2 separate regions of the Homo sapiens genome follow, and region 1 is linked to region 2. Evidence: fine-mapped expression QTL. A gene starts in region 2. The other region holds a variant in brackets. All regions are shown on one strand. Distances are from middle to middle.

The links.
Region 1: its variant is fine-mapped to the expression of OR6K3 in lung (TOPMed, PIP 0.96).

Annotation. Positions count from the first base shown.
Region 1 is chr1:158,745,532-158,749,940 of GRCh38, reverse strand. No RefSeq gene overlaps it. Among named protein-coding and RNA genes, the nearest start is that of OR6K6, 7.0 kb to the left of the region's middle. The variant G/A (reference allele first, on the strand shown) is at 2,103.
Region 2 is chr1:158,718,556-158,722,964 of GRCh38, reverse strand. It overlaps OR6K3 (olfactory receptor family 6 subfamily K member 3), which reads left to right and starts at 2,245. Exons shown (of 2, transcript NM_001005327.3): 1 at 2,245-2,282.

The DNA.
Region 1 (4,409 bases), 27 kb before region 2:
TGGGTGTCCATCATAAAAAGTAAAACTTTGAAAATAAGAAAAAGAAACACACAGCATTAAGACCATAAAGAAGAAAGAATGAAATTAGTTAAAGATGATATAAAATTTCCAAATGAAAATAAAGACAAATTATAACACAAAGTTCAGCAAGTGCATAGATACAAATGGATATATTTAACATTGCATTATTATATGTAACAGTTGACAAAAAGTGTAATAAAAAGATGCCATTTGAAGTATCAACAAAAATAAAAAACTGTAAAAGATATGTTACATCTAAACATAGCACTTTATAAAACTGTATTGGACTATATCAAAAACATAAATAAATTGATCCATATGCTGTATGAATGAATAGAATGTCTCAGTTACATAAACATGCCAATCATCTACAAGTCAATCATTTCAACCCAATTTCAATCAAAATCTCATTTTGAGTAGAGAGGAGTGGGATATGTAAGAATGAGGGCCAAGAAGAAGACATTTCAAAGGAGGAGATTAAAATGGTGCCACTTGTCTATTTAGTAAAAGTTATTATGAAGCAATATTTGTAATAAAATAGCAGTGGGAGTAAACAGCCAATGGAAGCAAAGAAATAGACTAATATAGTATGGGATTTTAACATACGTGAGAGTAGGTATAGCAGACCACTGGGGAAAAGATGAACATAGCCAGCACAACAGGTCTGTGGAAAAAGGTGCATTGTTTAATCAATTGTATTGGAACTTTAGTTAAAATTTTTCAATTCCATATAAATATAAACCATAAATTTAAAGACTGATGAATAAAACTATTTAATAGTTCGTTTCATCAAATAGCATCATTAAAAAGAAAAACAACAAGATATACACTAGGAGTCTGTATTTGTAATAACGTTTATAACTGATTATTTTTATTTAGAATATACAAAAAGCTTCTACAAAGTAATAAGAAAAAGATAAACAACCAAATGAGGAGTACACACACACACACACACACACTCACACATACACACATACAACATTCAACTGCAAATCAAAGCAATAGCATATTGTTTACACAACAACTGAGTAGCAAAAATATGACCACCCAGAACATTAGAAAAGATGTGCAACAATAAAAATGCATTTATTGTTGGTGGTAGACAGATTCTGAAAAACAATTTGGCAGCATCTAGTGAAGTTGAAGATGCAAATATTCCAGAATACAAAACGTTGAAGGCTAATGAATGATTAAATTGTGCTCCATTTATACAAGACAGCAGGGATTTTCTTTTAAAGTTGCAGCTAGATACATTGATGTGAATGATTCTCAAAACATATGTTGAGTGAATAAGCAAATTATAAAGTAATGCCTAAAATACCATTCTATTTACATAGAGTAAAACAGAACTAAACAGTATATTGTTTTTGAGTGTGCACACATGTGCTAAATAGAATAATAAACACAAAATTCAGGTGAATGGTAATATGTAATATGGCAATAAAGAACTGGATTGGGGAGGAAAGTGTAGTGGTCTTCAAAGTTATTCATAATATTCTATCTCTTAAGTGGGGTTGTAGGTTCATGTGAACAAGAAGTGAAAAGGTGGAGACAGAAATACTGATAAAAGAGTAAACTATGCTTTTAGGAAAATAAGATCGGGAAGAAGAAAGGCAGTATGGCAGACTTAGAGCAACAATGAAAATGAGAAAGAGTATATACTTTAATATGTTTGAGCATATTCATAAGCTATATAAGCAGACTAAAAAGAGGAAAATTTGGAGGATACATAGGTAAGTGAGACAACTGAAGGAACAGTGTCTCTGCATGAGATGAGATAAATAGGTTCAAAGCGTAAGAGGAGGAATTTATCTTAAGTGGTAAGACTGGATAAAATCAGGGTCAAAAAGTAAACATCAGTGTGGCTACAAATTAGACTATCTTTGAGTCACTATCTGATTCTTTAGCTATTCGCCGATTCATTTAATTATTCGTTTATTTAGCTACATATTCCTTAATCGAATGCTTATTGAGGGACTGTCTTTATTTATTGTTATTGTTTTTTATTTTTATTTTTTAGAGACAGAATCTCACTCTATTGCTCCGGTTGAAGTGCAGTGGCTGCTTACAGGGGCGATCAC[G/A]GTGCACTGCAGCCTCGAAGTCATGGCCTCAATCAGTCCCCCTGCCTCCACTCAAGGATCTGCCTTAAAAATCGCCTATTAAAAATCTAATCATTCAGAGTCGAAAGTCACCTCTGCTCTGACTCATTTTTCGCACCATATATGCCTGTGTCTCATAAGTTTTTTTTTTCTAATTTCAAATATGCTTTCAAATTCTGTTGCATTTCTATATCCACTGCTACTGTTCCACTAAACATTTAACACTTCGTGATTGTTTTATATCTCTTTTTGTGATAGAAGAAAAAAATCTTATGTGTTGTATATGTCTATTTCTTCTGCCTTTACCCACCTGGAGGTTAATATTAAGTCCAATTTCAGTTTTTAAAAAGTAGGAAAAAAAGAATTAGAAAAGTATCCTTCTGCTTCTATTTCCTGTCCTCTATATGAGGGCCCTTTTTTTTTTTTTCCTCAGGTCTGTCCAAGGTCTAGCTCATGTGTGCTCATCAATACAGCTTTCATGTAGCAGGAAAGGTTGCCCTTCAATCCTTTCCTGACTCCATACACTTGGGATATCTGCTGCTGGAACCCCTGAAACCCATGAAATCTCATGAGAGCCCCCTCATTACTGCCACTACTGCAAATGGCCCTGTGATCCCTGGATCCTTCTGAAGAAATTCTACTAAGCTGTGCTGGATGGCAGCTGGCTGAATCTTCTGCAATACACTTCAGGGTTGTGCTGTGTGATCACTAAACTGCTCCAAAGAGTAGAGAAAATTCTCCTGCCTTTGAACCACATTGCGTTAGTTTCATTCCTTTTGTTCCTTATCCTTTCCCTTTCTCAGCAGATTTTGTAATTTAAACTATTCTTTTACCCCTTGGACAGAATGGAAAGCCAAGTACTCTTTTCATCTGATTTCTAGCCTGACTGAAAAACCTAGCTTCCCATAGGTGTGTTGACCTCATGAAAGGGGAGTGTGTCAGCAAGTGTTTTCCTAATTAGTCTCATGGGGCATAGAGTTGCTTTTCCCTAAGCCCCCCAGGAAAGAGCCCTTTAGAAGAAAGCCTTTCTCCCACTTAGCAATTCCCTGTGATGCTTAGAGGTGTGGCTGTGGTTACAACCTTCCTACTTATTGGGCTGCAGAGCAATGAAGATGGAGACATTTGGAAAAGAGGAGGTGGCTCTGTTGGTTTCTGGAAGAGGTAGCTATGGACTGATGGGTGGACTTTCTACTTTGAGATATGAGTGAATGACTTTGTTTACTAGATATTGGGGGACAATTTTCACAGAACCATATTATTTCCTATTGGACTTTAAAGAAGGACTTGTGGAAATTTTGTTGAGATTGTGACAACACATGAGGTAGAGGAAAGGACCATAACTTAGGGATGGAGGGCTTTGGTGAGTGTTTGTCCTACAATTAGAGATTGCCGTAAGATAACAAACACCTGGACTAAATCTGTCAAATTGTGTCTGGCCCACTAGCTCTATGACTCTTTCACAACTCTACTATTTTCTGAGCTAAATTCTAATCTAGGTTTGTATTGTATTTAGTGGCATCAGGACAGGCTCTTAAGAATAAAGGAATGTCAGGACAACTAGTGGAGCTTCTGGTTGAGATTCTGGGGTATCCATTCCTACAGAAAATAGGAGAGTCCTATTAGGTATAACTTTGCTCCCAAGACTCTATATCAAATTGCCTTCCTATAGGCATCCTCTTTCCTTCTTAAAGACTCAAGTTCCTAAAGACCTACCTTTTTAACAAAAATTTCCAGATTTCAATTTTCTAATTCCAAACGGTACTGGACATAGAGCTTAATGCTTCTTTCCCTGTTTGTCTCCCTACTGCCTCTGTAAGCAGAACACAGAACAATTACACGGGTATCATTTTCTATCATACTAGGAAAGCCTGTTGGGGATAATACAGTCATAAGATATTGGGATGACAAAATAATTTTACAATCTCATATACAGCCATATTATCTGTTCTGCTTAAAGGCTCAGGTTTGATTTGGAACCCTACAGAGAGCCAGTATAAGGTTTTCAGACAGAGGATTGACAGCTTTGCATTTAGGAAAGATTATTTCAGTAGCTATGTGAAAGTGAGATGTAGTAAGACAAGTCTGGAAACAATAAGCCCAGATAAGAGTAATTAAGGTAAAAATTGCTAGAGTATAAATTATTTTTTATGAGCCTCCATTTCTTATGTAAAAGTTTTCTTAAAGAAAAACAAGGGAATTTTCACCTCATATTTTCCTGTTTCAACATAGACTTACTATTTTGCTGTATGTATAAAAAGCAAGAGAAAAAAAATTGTGGTTGCCATATGC
Region 2 (4,409 bases):
AATATCTATAAGTTTACCTAAAAACCTTCATGATAGCTATGTCAGTACTCTGAAATATTATATACCACTTTCTTTTTTCTAGAAAAGAAAATAATTTCTGTTTATATCAAAAGCACCAGTTGATTCTGTTTATTGGATAGTCCAGGAATGAACAAAAATATATATTGAAAATTTAACAGCAAAAAACAAAAATCAAAATTAAGTTAAACCAAAGCATTATATATCCTGGGGAAAAGAGTTCCCACAATTGACCTCCAAAGTTAAAACACTTCCTCAGGTATGAGTACATGAGATCCGACTGAGGGAAATACTTATCTGCCCGGTGTTGGACAAGAAAACAGAAGAGGAGAGCCTAGAAATTAACTGGATGAAATTCCACATACAACCGATGGAAAAAATAATTAAAGCTTGGAAAAACAGAAATTGAGAACGATGCTCTACTTGGGAAATCTGGATAGAGAGAATGGAGCCAAAGAATGTATGAAATTTCCCAGTCACAATGGAGTTATCCACTGAGCTGTGTTCAGAGAAGGACATGAAAAGTAAATCTTAAATTTACAAGCCAGAGAAGTGAGGAACTATCCAGGTAAACTGAGGCTACTAAAACAAAACAAAAAAGCACAACTTTTTAGCACAAAGCAATAATCTATAACTAATACTGAACTTCGTGGCAGATATTTCCATATTTGCTGTGCATATTTAGATATTTAATATTCTTATTTTTTGTATCCAAATATATTCTCTCCTTCTCTCTCACACACACAGACAAACACAGATTGCCTTCTTTAAAACAATGATTTTAGTTTTGCCATACACCGTTTGTATTAAAATCATTAACTTTGTCAAATGCATAGCCCAATAAGTAGTTGGATTACTACAGTTAAAGAGAGAGAGAGAGACTGAGAGAGACAGAGAGGTTAGGGAATTGAAAGTAAATGCTCTTTCATTACATAGACTAACTCTAAGACACAAATCATTAAAATGTTTCCTATTTAAAATTTTGATGAGATTTGTGAAGATATCAGAAAAAAAGTTGAGAAATAAAAAATACAAAATTTAATATACAATGGAGATATTGAAGAATATATTAAATACTACAGGAAATTAAATTAATGTTTTGTAAGATTGCCTGGAAGATATGTCCCAGAATTTAGAGAAGCCACATGAAGAGCCAAATATTACATGCAAAGAGAAAAAGTTATATATGGAGAATGTATTAATAGATATTACAGAGCAAAATATGATTATGAAAATTCTAGAAAAAAAACAAAACAGAGGAAAATAATAAGTAAAATTAAAGGAAAATATTTCTGAGCTTGAGAATACTTGAGTCATGGGATCAAAACAGACTGTTTTATATTATACAAAATCATTGGAAATACAATGTGGCCTGTTGACATTTTTGAATTAAAAAAAACCTACAAGTTAGACAACCAAAATAGGCTCCCAAATCGTAAGAAGAAAAGTTAGACAAAACTCAGAAAGCACGTCTTCCTATTTGAGAACTTGATACATATTTCCAGAAGAAGATGACATGATAAAAGTAATTAACTTTGAAAAAAATGAGAACTTTGCAATTTCAACAGATCAGTGGATGAAGCACAGATATAAATAATACTCTTGTAGAAAAGATGAGATATTGATCTTCAATAAAGAAGTCAGCAGAACCAGTGTGAGTTGTTCAAGGTAGGAAAGACCCATACACACTCACGACATGAGAAAAACAAAAAAAGACATGGTTTCCTCACTTTCTTCAGTATTGGCACTAAATCCCCAGTGCCATGTTTATTATGAAATGGCCTTATTTTCTGTAAAATAGCTTTTCAAGATGATCTTCTGGTGTCAGTATATTCCTTCCAGGCTTTCCAAATCTGTGTGTTCATATAAGAAGGCCAGGATCATGTCAAAACTACCCTTTGCATAGTACACTGGTACACTCAAGAACAGCTGAGACAATCATGAAAGTGCTAGAGAAGGAAGCTTACAAATTTGGGAAGATGAGTACAATCAGGAAAAATATATATATTTATTGACAACTTCGATCTGAAAATCTAACAAAAGGAGAGTAAGAGGGGAAACTTTCTGTTAATTAACCCCATGAGAGAAGGTGATTCACTTCAGTGCAGTGGAGGGGAAGAATCCTCCACAGAGCCCAGTTCCCTTTCCTGTTATTCCCTGGATGCCCTATGGAGAGACTATAAATCCCTTTTTGAAAAGGCTGAAGTAATATTAAGGATGCAGTGACCCAGGCAGACTGAGGAGTCCCTGTGTTTTTGGCAAAGGTGAGTGTAGATGACTAAGTCATAAAGAGACCGAATTCATTCACCATGCATAATCATCATCATCATCATCATCTCATAACCTGAAGACCTGATTATTAAAGAATTTAGAACTTTGAATAAGGGTGGAAGGCAAAGGTATTTACAGGAGGAAGCTCTGTTCAGTGTGGTTCTGGGCATGGGTATATATGAAACAGCATGCCACATTTATAATGCCATTTTCTGAGAGATCATCTAGTCAAGACTTGATTGAGGCTCTCATTAGAACTGAATTGTCATAGTTCCCTTTTCAAACAGTCCCCAATTTTCTTTGTTCACTTACTCATGGCTGTCTTGTGCACTTAGTTATAATTGTACCAAGTGGCTGAGTTCCAAGTTAATTTATTTGATACCTACCGTCTCTACATATTAACCCTGTTGTAGTCACTATGAGGGATAAAAGACATTCACTGTCCTGAAGGAGAAACCTATAGTCTAGAGAAGGTAAAACAAGTAAGTTGATGATGGATCCTGACAAACGCTTCAATAAAGCATAATGGCATTCAACACTTCCAAGTGTTTCCTATATTCCTAACACTAAGGTTTTAAAATACATTTACATGTATTGGTAGAGGCAGTCAACTGTATGTAGGTTAGAATGTGTCTCTAGAGATACAGTGCATAGATTTAAATTCTGACTTTGCCCTGCATTAGCCGAGAATTTCTGGACAAAGAACTTAACCTGTCTGTGCCTAAGTTTTCTCCTCTGTAAAATGGGGATAATCATTTCACCTCATTAGAGCATTAAGAGCATGAGGTGAAAAATATATACAATGTGCTTGGAATAGTGCCAGCATTAGTGACGTAATAATACCGTATACTATACTGTACAATTCTATTGTTATTATAAAATGTTTAGTTATTCTCAGGACTTCATTAACCAGTATTAATATTTTCTCAGTTTTACAAATGAGATATTAAAGGCATAGAGAAGCTAAGTAACTTCATGTTAAGTCACAGAGCTGGTAAGCCATAAAGAGAATTTAAATGCTAGCAATTTTTTTTCTGGCATCTAGACTTTTAACCAGCAGTATATATTGCTTTTGTGTGAGGAGAGGGGGCAGAGGAGGGAGAGATATGTTACTTTAAAGTCAGAGGAAGTAGCACAAACAGGAGAGAACTGTGATTTTAGAAAGCAACATGAACAATGGGATTGCAGGGGAGAGAGGAGTCGGAGAATGTTAGCAGGTGAAGCTACAGAGAGTTAAGAGTCAGATAGTTGGTGTGAAGCTTATGAAAGAGAGATTGGTTAGAGAAAAACATTTAGAAGTATTAATAGTTTAAATCCTGTAAGCGGATGAGATCACTAAGGGAGTGTATAAAACTATAAGAGGTTGAAGTGGATGATAGGAACCTGGGGAAAATAGACTCTTGGGAAAGAATTTAAGAAAGACAACACAAGCTAATATAAGAGAGAAGAGGCAGAATAAGAAAGAAAATATAAATAAAATAAATAAAACAGAAGCAAAAGTCAAAGCTAGAACTGCCTTTAAAGCTATCTGGGCGTCACGTCCCTTGAGAATGGAATCGTGGAAACAGAGGAACAAAGTCTCAAGCAGGAGTAATGAAAAGTGTCGAGTGCCAGAGATGACTGGATAGTTTCCATTAGTAATTAGCAGGGCATTGATGAACGTGATCAGTATAGTATCAGCATAATGCTCGGGAGGAAGCACACAGCAGTGTTAAAGGAGAACAAGAAATGCAGAGAGGTAGATTGTATCACTCTTTCCAGAAGTTGCCTATTAAACACTGTCCAAATCTTTCTGCAAGTATTTACTAAATCCTACAGCATCCTTGTTAGATAGGTACTATTTTTAATCCCATTTTGCAAATGATTACCTGATACTCTGAGGTATTAAGTAATTTTCCAAAAGACATATAGGTAACAATAGACAGGATTTCAATGTCAACTTCAGGTTTACATTGTAACACGTTAGAACAGAGATTTTCAAAGAGCATGTGCACAATGGCCCAGTCGGGTAGGGAAAGAGCATAATATAACTTCTGTTATGTTTATTCGTATTCATACTTTTTAATTTTAAAATTTATTATATGAGATACAGATATATAATTTTGTGTTATTATGCCTTA